Homo sapiens: one gene and its partner. The protein of the gene in region 2 purifies or fractionates together with the protein of the main gene of each other region. This does not show direct contact. Each region holds a gene or a part of one and is shown on either strand. Other genes may lie near its edges.

What was found. The genes of interacting proteins can lie anywhere in the genome.
Region 1: the proteins of GML (region 2) and ITGA8 purify together in Homo sapiens (affinity purification with mass spectrometry; one large-scale study listed by BioGRID and IntAct). This does not show direct contact.

The regions. Positions count from the first base shown.
Region 1 is NC_000010.11:15,607,783-15,612,695, reverse strand, and holds part of ITGA8 (integrin alpha-8 isoform 1 preproprotein), read left to right. Parts: intron 1-4,405; coding exon 4,406-4,461; intron 4,462-4,864; coding exon 4,865-4,913. UniProt on the Homo sapiens protein: Integrin alpha-8/beta-1 functions in the genesis of kidney and probably of other organs by regulating the recruitment of mesenchymal cells into epithelial structures.
Region 2 is NC_000008.11:142,837,141-142,842,053, reverse strand, and holds part of GML (glycosyl-phosphatidylinositol-anchored molecule-like protein precursor), read right to left. Parts: intron 1,639-4,913; 5' UTR 1,617-1,638; coding exon 1,544-1,616; intron 937-1,543; coding exon 829-936; intron 1-828. UniProt on the Homo sapiens protein: May play a role in the apoptotic pathway or cell-cycle regulation induced by p53/TP53 after DNA damage.

The sequences.
Region 1 (4,913 bases), on a different chromosome or scaffold from region 2:
TTTGCTGGATGATGGAGGCTTTGCTTGTACTTTCAGAAGCTGGCTGATATGACTCCTGAAAGTGTTCCTTCTGAATTTTGTCAGCCATCTGGAGGGAGTACAAGATGGAACTTGACTATAACACAGTTCAAGAAAATACCACTGTTTCCCAATATGTAGGTCCTCAAGAGTTAGAAGTCACTATGTTGGTTAATACCTTCAGGGTATACCCTCTGAAAGATCAACAAATCCTTGGGGTGTTTAATATTTTGCCCTTATTTTTCAGGAGACGTGGTCTAACTCAGACAGTATTTTTGGTTTCTGAGAATGTCAGAATTGCAGAACTAACCACTCTTGACCCAGAGAAGTTATTTCCAGCCAATTTTAACATGTTGTTGATGGCCTTTTGACAGGAGTTCATACTGGAGTCAAAGCTTTTGAGGGTGGAGGGTGGGGACTTAGAGGACCCTGAAGAATTCTTTGAAAAACATCCTATTGCTGGGAGCTGGGGAGTGTGGCGGGAGAGCATCCTCTTCTTTAACTGCTCTTGAAAAGAGTTGGAAAATGCCCTGGGCACATTTGGTTAAAACCATAAAATAGTATAATGAAAACCTGATCTGAGAAAATATGTCAGAGAGCCAGCGTTTATCCTTACCCCTGCATGATTAAATGAACAATGAACTGTGAGAGTTGCTACTTGTTCATGAGTATTAAAACTTCAGTATTTCCCCCAAATAGGCTCATGTTCACACCTTCATAACAGAATGGACTTCTAGGCTGAATTCCTTTAAGCACATGTGGTACACTCTGATATAGAATGTTGTTGTTTTGAACTAGATAATTGATTCTAAGGGTTTTTAGTTTAATGCATATTTGTATAAGACTGAAGTGTGTGGTTTTTTTTTTTTTTTTTTAACCAGATTAAGAGTTCTGTTTGGGGCCGGGCGCGGTGGCTCACGCCTGTAATCCCAGCACTTTGGGAGGCCAAGGCGGGCAGATCACGAGGTCAGGAGATCGAGACCATGGTGAAACCCTGTCTCTACTAAAAATACAAAAAATTAGCTGGGCGCGGTGGCGGGCACCTGTAGTCCCAGCTACTCAGGAGGCTGAGGCAGGAGAATGGCATGAACCTGGGAGGCGGAGCTTGCAGTGAGCTGAGATCGCACCACTGCACTCCAGCCTGGGTGACAGAGGGAGACTCTGTCTCAAAAAAAAAAAAAAAAAAGAGTTCTGTTTGGTTTTATGGAAAGAATATTACTTTTTAACAAGAAAATGTCTTTCTTTTCATGAGCCATTTTCTTACTGCATTTAATCATATTATTAAGATAAAGTGCAATTTGTTATGTGGACAAATGTATATCCCTTTACAATTATATTTGTTTCTATTGCATACATTTTTCTGGAAGAAGTCTTATTTTCACATGCAAAATTTGTGAATGGTGCCTCAGAGCCTCAGAAGACAGAAAGTTAACAGCTGGTTCAGTCTAGAATGTGTTTCTTTGATTCTCTTTTTTCTTTATTTTAGGAACTTAGCTTAGTTTTTCCAAAATGATTGAAAGGTCTCCGTTGATTTTCTCTGCTGTTATTTGTGTCTGTATTTGATATAACTTTATATCATACATCTGAAAACTATCACATAAACTCTACTTGGCAAATAGTTCTTCACTTCCATCGATGTGGATTTCTGTGTCTTTCAAACAGCGGTGTAGTTTTATAAAGTATCTATCTTTAATTGGTATTTCTAAGTTAGAAAAAGGGGGAAAAAAGCCAGCTCAATAAATATTAATATAACTGGTGACTAACCAATTACAAAAAGAAAAACTAGCGAAATACTTCATTTTAGAAATGTAAAAGTGAGTAACGACCCAGTTGTCCAACCTGATTAAAAAAACTTGTCAGATGTGAGTGACTGTGTGAAACCTGCTATTTGCTATCACTGAAATAGGAGTGAAAACTGATGAGAATGTAAAATGAATTGCTTTGTACTTTTAAATCGTGTTTCACATTTATCTCATTTTCTCTTCATCATAGACAGCTGTGAGCACAGTCACAACGCAGAATCATTATTCCAACCGTGCTTGGGTTGGGACTAGCCTCAGAAGATCATGTAGTGTATCACCCTGCCTTCTGGCCATATCAAAAGCACTGTCCACAAACAGTTTAATTTAGAATTTATGTAATAAGGGACTTGGATTGATTTGATGGGTTTTTTTGTTCCAATCAGACCTATTTAGACTAATGGGCCATACTGAAAATGACCAATATTTCTAGTTTGAAATTTTAATTCTAATTTAATGAAAGTTTACAGCTTTCCCTAATGACCCAAGTATACTTTGTAATTAGCTGTAGGCCTGCAAGTGATCCTAATTCTATGCTCCATATGACCTGTGATGTATGTGTGCTTATATATAATATAGTATGTTTTCCTAAATTCAGCATGAACACATCAGCCCACTACTATAAAATCTTGAAATTTTCTTTAGATCATAACACAGAGTTTGAAAAATTATGACTTCACAGACTCTTTTCCACTAAAGTAATCTATTAACTGGCAGGTTTAGGTTGGAGTGCTATTATTGAGAATTCAGTACATTGTAGCAGTGATATTACACTTGTATGAAAAAAAAGTTAAAGTCATCCATTTGGTAATGATATTCAGAAAACAGAAAGAGTGAGCTAAGAAAGAAATAGAGATTTATACTGACAGGTAATTCATAAATAAATAGTAACCCTTTAGCTGATAACATCATTTATCAACTATATACCATCCCATAAGGAAAAAAATGTTCATTTGTATAACTTTATTCCTTTTTAAAAATTAGTTATTTTGAATTGTTTGTATTAAAAATACTGTATCTAAAATGATTTTAATGTATATATGTTGATAATGTCATTACAAATAGGAATTTATTTTATAAAAGCTAATGGCTTTGGTCTACACAGTTAAAGATGAATGGAAAAAAAGATCATTGGCTGATTTGAACATACACCAAAATACTTTCAAAAAGGTTGGATACAGAAAAATTCTAATTTTGAAAGCCAGGCTTACTACAAAATTGAAAGATGTGATTAACTCTTCATCTTTCTTGAATAATTCTAATTGAAGCAGAAGCAAGTTGGAATCAGTGATTTCTCTGGGGAAGCGGAATAAACACTTGTAATAGCGTAGACATTTCAGGAAACTTTTGGCTTAATGGTATGTGGCAAATTATTTACCCTGAGGGGAGACATTGACTGAGGTCACAGCAGATAGATGAATCCCAGATGTGACACTTTTTCATTATATTTGACACAGGAAGCTGACACATAATTAAAGTATGATTGGGGATTATTTACTCCCTTTGAATTCTGTAGAAATATCCACATCATACTATAGTATTTTACTGGTAAAAGTTTATGACTGTCATTAAACCATACTTAAGTATTTTCTTATATTTTCACTTTCCTAGAAATGTGAAAAGGCCCCATCTCTAGTGATAGCTGTTAGGGCTTGGAATTTTTCAGGGAGAGGTGAGCACTTTCATTCAACAAAGGCAGCCAGGGAGTCAGTCGTCTCTCATTCCATCTGTAGCCACAGACCAAAGCCAAGTGCAGATCATCCTATAAGCCAGTGCAGACATTGCCTTGAATGGTAGTGATGGTGTGTTCAAGGCACAACTCCAAAGTGTCTCTCATGGACATCTGCCCTCTCTTGATTGTCTTTATTCCTATATCATTGTGCCCACCTAGCTTGAGACAGCCATGCTAAACTTCCTGTTTTCTCTTTCTCCCCTCCCTCTTCTCGTCTCAACCTCCAGTCTTACCCCAACTGTAGCAAGGTTCTGCCAAATTTCATCTCCTTCCAAGCAGAGTGGGTGTTTTAAGTTAAGCATACCATGTGCTCCATGCTTCTGAAGATTAAATCTGCATTTTTTAGCATGACTTTCAAAGCCCTGTTCCTCACCGATCCACCAAGCCAGCCTTGCCTCCTACAACTTTGCCATCTTGCTCAGTGCCCCGACTACACTGAATTTCTTCAGTTTCCTCAAATGGGTCCAGATTCTTACTCACCTCCAGATTTTACCTCTGGCTATCCTCTTGCTCTGCTGCCTAATTCTTCCCTCCCTGGCACATGGAAGATACTGACCTGTATTCATTGAATAAAAGCAACAAGTAATTGACTAATTGAGCAACTGATTAAATCAGTTAACCTCCTGTACTATTTTCCAGTATTACCTTCCATGTAATAATAATGTCACTTGTCTTGATTGTATTAGTGTTGAGATCAATTGGTAGAAGGGGTGTGTGTGTGGGTGTGTGTGTGTGTGTGTGTGTAATTAGAAATATATAGAGAAAATGATATTCGTTATCTGGGATTAGGTAAAGGAAGGCTTCTACTTTAGATTCAAAACTTTATTAACCAATAAATTACTACTATTTTCTATAGCTTTTCTTTAAGAGTATGTGCATCTGTCACAGGCCAGAGCATTGCAAACACAATAGGTAAGCATGTTTTCATTTTTACATTCTTATGGTATACTAAGAAAGTTGAACAGTAACCATTTCTCTGCACAGACCATAAAAAAATGAAAGAACCCTTGAGGAATACCAAGATATCTGTTGCATATATGGAACCTTCTAATAAATATTACTTCAATACTTGGTAATACTATTATTTATAAGAACATATAATTGTAGGGAAAATGACAACTTTTATAAAACCATTATAAAACATTTGTAGCTTGGAGAGTATGTTATACAATTTTTCCAGCTCATTTATCATGCTTGGTCTCAACTATGAAAAAGAACTGTTTCCTGAATAAGCAACTTGAAATAGAAATTCATCTCTCTGATAGAGCACTGTGTTCACTGAATACTTTTTCTCTACTTTACTTCTGTCCTTTAGTCTTGATGGCAGAGGTGCAATTAGATTCCCTGAAACAGAAAGGAGCTAT
Region 2 (4,913 bases):
TGACACACGGGGATTATGGGAGTTACAATTCAAGATGAGATCTGGGTGGGGACATAGCCAAACCACACCGAGGTGGTAATCAGGGGATTATTTTTGCACAAAGCTTAGAACACAGAATGACATGTGAAGTTGCAAGCACAACCACAGACACCGGGGACAAAAGGGCTACAGGAAAGGCCCTGAGCAGAGCCCCAGACGAGGCTCCACCTGTGCGCCAGGGCATACACTGGCTGCACCCTCCCTGCTTGCTCCATTGGTCACTGGGCCTCTGGCCATACATCTTCTGCAGGTTAGGGCCCTGGGGAGAGAGGGCACCAGAGGGCTCTGAGGAAAAAGCAAGAGCATCCTGGAAGTGCAGGCTGTGCCCTGACCTCATGCTTGTCCTTCCCATCTGTGTGTGGTAGGTTTTTCCCTGGGGGGAGTCCATGGCCCATCCACTGCTTTGACCTGCCGAGCTGGAAGCACTCTCTAGACTACCAGAAATTGAATGGCCAGTGAGGACTCACCCAGGCAGCATGGGGTGTCTACACACACAACCAGGGACAGTAGAGGCTCTGAGGTCCAGCAATGCTCCTACCCCCTGGAGACGCTGCAGATGTGTGGACAGATTGTACTACTTTGCAGAGTACCTGGCTCTACAAGATGATGCATGCTGGCCTATCATGAGGCTGAGACCAAAGCGTGCAGAAACGCACTCAGGATGGGAGGACATGAGGGAAGGGGAAACAGAGCTGGGTGCAGAGAAGAAAGCAGACTGGCCCTGGCCCCAGAAACTACCCAGGTAGGGGACTAATCTACAATGTGTCAAAATGACAAAGAGGTACTTACGAATGGAGATTGTCATACAGCGCCTAATATGATACGGACATACTCTAATGTTGGGACAGTTGAAGTCATTTATGACCGCACAGTCATGGCATCTCAAACTGTAAGTCCCTGAGAGGGGAGAAAGCAGGCTTCAGGCTTCTGCTCCACTACGCCTTTTCCACCCATTACCAGCTCACTCCACCCTTCTTCAACGGCCAGCCCTTCCCCTCTGCTTCCAAGGACTTCTCCTAGCCTGCACAGCTCAGCTCTCTATGCAGTCTGAGTCTGGCCCAGGCTAGCTCCTGGGAGGGAGGCCAGGCACAAGGAGAGCTTTCCCTGCTCTCCAACGCAGGCTCCAGAGAGCGCCACTGGTGGTCACATACGGGATTGCTATGCTCTGCAGACCTGGCTCACCTCGCCAAGGAAGACTGGATACTCACAGGGGTCCGCCATCCTCCTGGGTTTCCCTGGACAGAGCCCCTCCTGCCTGGCGCTGATGGAGAAGGGCCACATCAAGGTTCCCCCTTGGTCCCTGGTCAGCTGCTCCTTCATCCTAACCCTCTCCTTGCTCATGACTACTCCTGGACTGCCCTAGTGCCCACCCCTGATTACACAGACAATGCAGGCCCCAGCTAACGGAGGCTTGCTCCACGTTGCAGCCAATCATCCCAGTGACCCCCAGCACCCCAGGTGAATTCTCGTCCTCTCCAGGACAGTGAGAGGGAATGATACTTACACTGAGCGCGCATGGTGGCACTGGCTGCCACCAATGGGAGCTCCATGGCTAGGAGTAAGGCAAAGAGGAGCATCACTTCACGCAGGAGCCTGGACCTGAAGGGAAGGAGCCCCATACAACACGTTAGTGAGCCATGGCTCCTTGGCCAGCTCTATGCCCCTGGCCTCAACGGCCTCATGAGTCTCCCTGACTCTGCCCACCTGAATGCCTCCCCCACTGGGCCAGTAGCTCCTCGGGTAAGGCACTGGGGTCGGGCAGGTCTCACCCACACACGAGGCTTCGCCAGGCCTGTGCCCTCACCTCAGACAAACTCGCTGTCACTCCTTGAGCCAGGGAGGTCCTGGGGCTGCTTCATGTGGCAGCTCACCCAAGGGTCCCCACGCTCCGAAATATGTTTCTGTATCTGCTGGTTGATTCTGAACCTCAACAGCGGCTTGTGAAATGTTCTCAAATACTCCGCCCACTGACGCGCTTCCCGCTCCCTCCGCCCACTGACGCGCTTCCCGCTCCCACACACAGCTCAGCAACACGAGGGCCAAGGTGACTACAGAAGGGGAGCGAGGGCAGAACATGCCAGAAGCCCAACTTGAAGGCATCCTCAGTGTCATTACGAGAGAACTCCCCTCCCAAAATCAAGTCTTCCTTCACCCTGGGCATCACCGAGCCATCAGCTAATTACTGGCAAGGGGAGGGTCTGGGGCACCTCACACCTGAGTCCTGATGCCAGCACTGTGGGCTCAGAAACGCCCCCCAGGTCACCAATCAGTTGCCACAACTGAGACATTTTCTCGCAGGGACCCAACTGCACCCTTACTCCTGCAAACGCACTGTCTCCATCCCCTACCCCCCTTCAGCAGCCCGACTCAAGGGGGAAGCTCCATCTCCCTGGTTGGGAGCAGGTCAGCCCGCAGTGCTCAGTGGGGCAACTCCCTGGGCCCAGCTGCTGATGCGTGCTGACTCCCCTCACGCGAAGGCCCCACCTGGAGGGGGTCAGAGCCTGATGTGTAGCTCCCTCCACCGCAGGAGCAGCTGGGGCTACAGAACTAGAAGCTGACTGTGCAGCAAGAAGCCACACCCCAGGGATAGGGATGATCAGGATCCAGTACCCACTTTGCCCCACCCTGTGTACCAAGTCCAGCGCCAGTGGGCGAGGCTGAGATTCAAAATGCCCCTAGCCCTAGGTCATCAAGTTTAGGAAAAAAGATGGGCTGGTACCTCTGGCATGCAGGAGACCAAGACTGGGGGCCTGTCAGTGTCCACCCTTGGAAGGGGCTCCTGACTCGTCCAGCCAGCCAGCCTCCCTAGGTGGATCTCCTACCCACTCCATGCCCATTCCCCTGAGACCCAGCAGCCCCGTCTCCACTCTGTCGTGCCTGCTTTCCCTGGATGCCTCCTTCACTCATCCAACACTTGCTCCCAAAGCTGGGCTCAAGGGCACCTACTGACCCAGAGCATGTACACTGAGGCCCTCTTCCTCCATGAGGGCACAGCAGACATTCTGAACACCCTTCTACTGTCAATGCCCAGAGCACATGCAGGAAAACTCCCATCAAGTGTGTTCACTGATTTCCAGCTGGATCTTGGGGTGGATGGGAAAATACCCAAGAGCTACAATGGAATACTAGAAGACAGCAAACTGGAAAGTCCACAGTAACTGTATGATTTCCTCGGGCACAGGTTGACACCCAGCTCCCAGAGCTTTAGGATTTTGTAGTAGAAGAGGTCCTGGAGACAGAGCCAGGGCCAAGGTGAGTGCGAAATGAGAGCTTGGATTCCTTCACAGAGCATGGATCCTCAAGACTAAAGGTGTCAGAGAAGCAGAGTGGGCTAGAAAATGTGGATCATCAGCATCAGCAAACAGAGACCCTGGTAACTTCAGGCCTCATCTTCCAGAGGATGCATGAAAACAGTGTGTTTCCCAGGAATTCCTTACCCAGAGGCTTTCTCAACAGTCAGTCTGGAGTTAGAACGTGTATGACTGTGTGATCATAAACCCCAGACACAAAAACCACTTGCAAGTGGTCATGAGTCATCCTCACCCTGGGAAGCCAACAGAAACCATCACTGGAGGGGGACATACCCTCCACTCAGACCCCGAGTCTCCGGTTGACTAATGACAAATACAAATGTGCCACAGATAACCAGAGGCACAGAAGTGATTAAGCCCCCAGGAGCAAAGGCAGAAGAAACAAAATCTCCAAGTTAGACTCCCAAGGAATTCCCATATAGGAATGATTGGAGGCAAATGTAAACATACAGCCTTGAAAAGTCAGGAAAAAATCAGGTCACTTCCACTTCTACATGGGATGCAGTAGGTTGTGGCTGCTCAGAATGTGACAACCAGGCAAATCAATCCACAGAGTTAAAAGTCACATTTGAAAGGCCCTTGGACAGATGTGGAAGCACCAAGGCCCACGTAAACTGAAATTCCGAAGAGGGCGAGCCCTTCCCAGGGTACCCTTTGTCATTGCAAATACATTTGTCACTTTGGGCACCAGCTGAAAGCCAGGCTGGCTACAGACAGGGACTCCAGTAGGGAATGCAAACCAGAGTGCCGTCTTGGCTCACGGGGAACCAAAGTGGCCCAGAATCTCCAGGTACCTAAAGATCAAGACAGTTTTCCCATGGAAGAGCCTCCAAGTGCTGTGGTGGGAGGGACCCTGGGGAGTCAGAGAAGGCCAAGTAGAATCCCCCCCAGTGTGGCAGATCCCAGGAGACAGAGTGCCCCTAGAAGGAGCCTGCCACAGTCATACCACTGGTCTCCATCATAAGCCAGTGGCCCCGATGGAACAGGTGTGTGGGATGAGGTTCAAGGGGAAAGTCAAAGCCTAGACAGGGAAACCTGTCCGAGCTGAGGATTCGGTGTGAAAGGTGAGCATACAAATTGGGTCACCCTTGTCACACCCAACTAAGGCAGAGTGCCAGGTAGGGAGACCATTCAGCACTCAGGATAGAAAACATTGCTCCAAGAATGTACTTCTCTGAGGCCTGACTGCTGAAACTGCCTGCGGTAACCTGAAACCAGTTTTATCTGATGGCTACTGAGACCACCTGCTGCAACTCTAAGCCTCGGTTCACCCACTGCTGTCACTGATTCACTCATCAACCAGAGCTTGCCAGCTCCCCAAAATCCTACTAGTGCCAATGAAACTCAGACAGCAATATGTACTATTTCTCTTCTTTATAAAAAAGAGACATAGTTTCTTTTTTTGAAACAGAGTCTCGCTCTGTCCTGCAGGTTGGAGTTGGAGTGCAATGGCGTGATCTCGGCTCACTACAACCTCCACCTCCAGGGTTCAAGCAGTTCTCCTGCCTCAGCCTCCTGAGTAGCTGGGACTATGGGCGCACGCCACTACGCCCAGCTAATTTT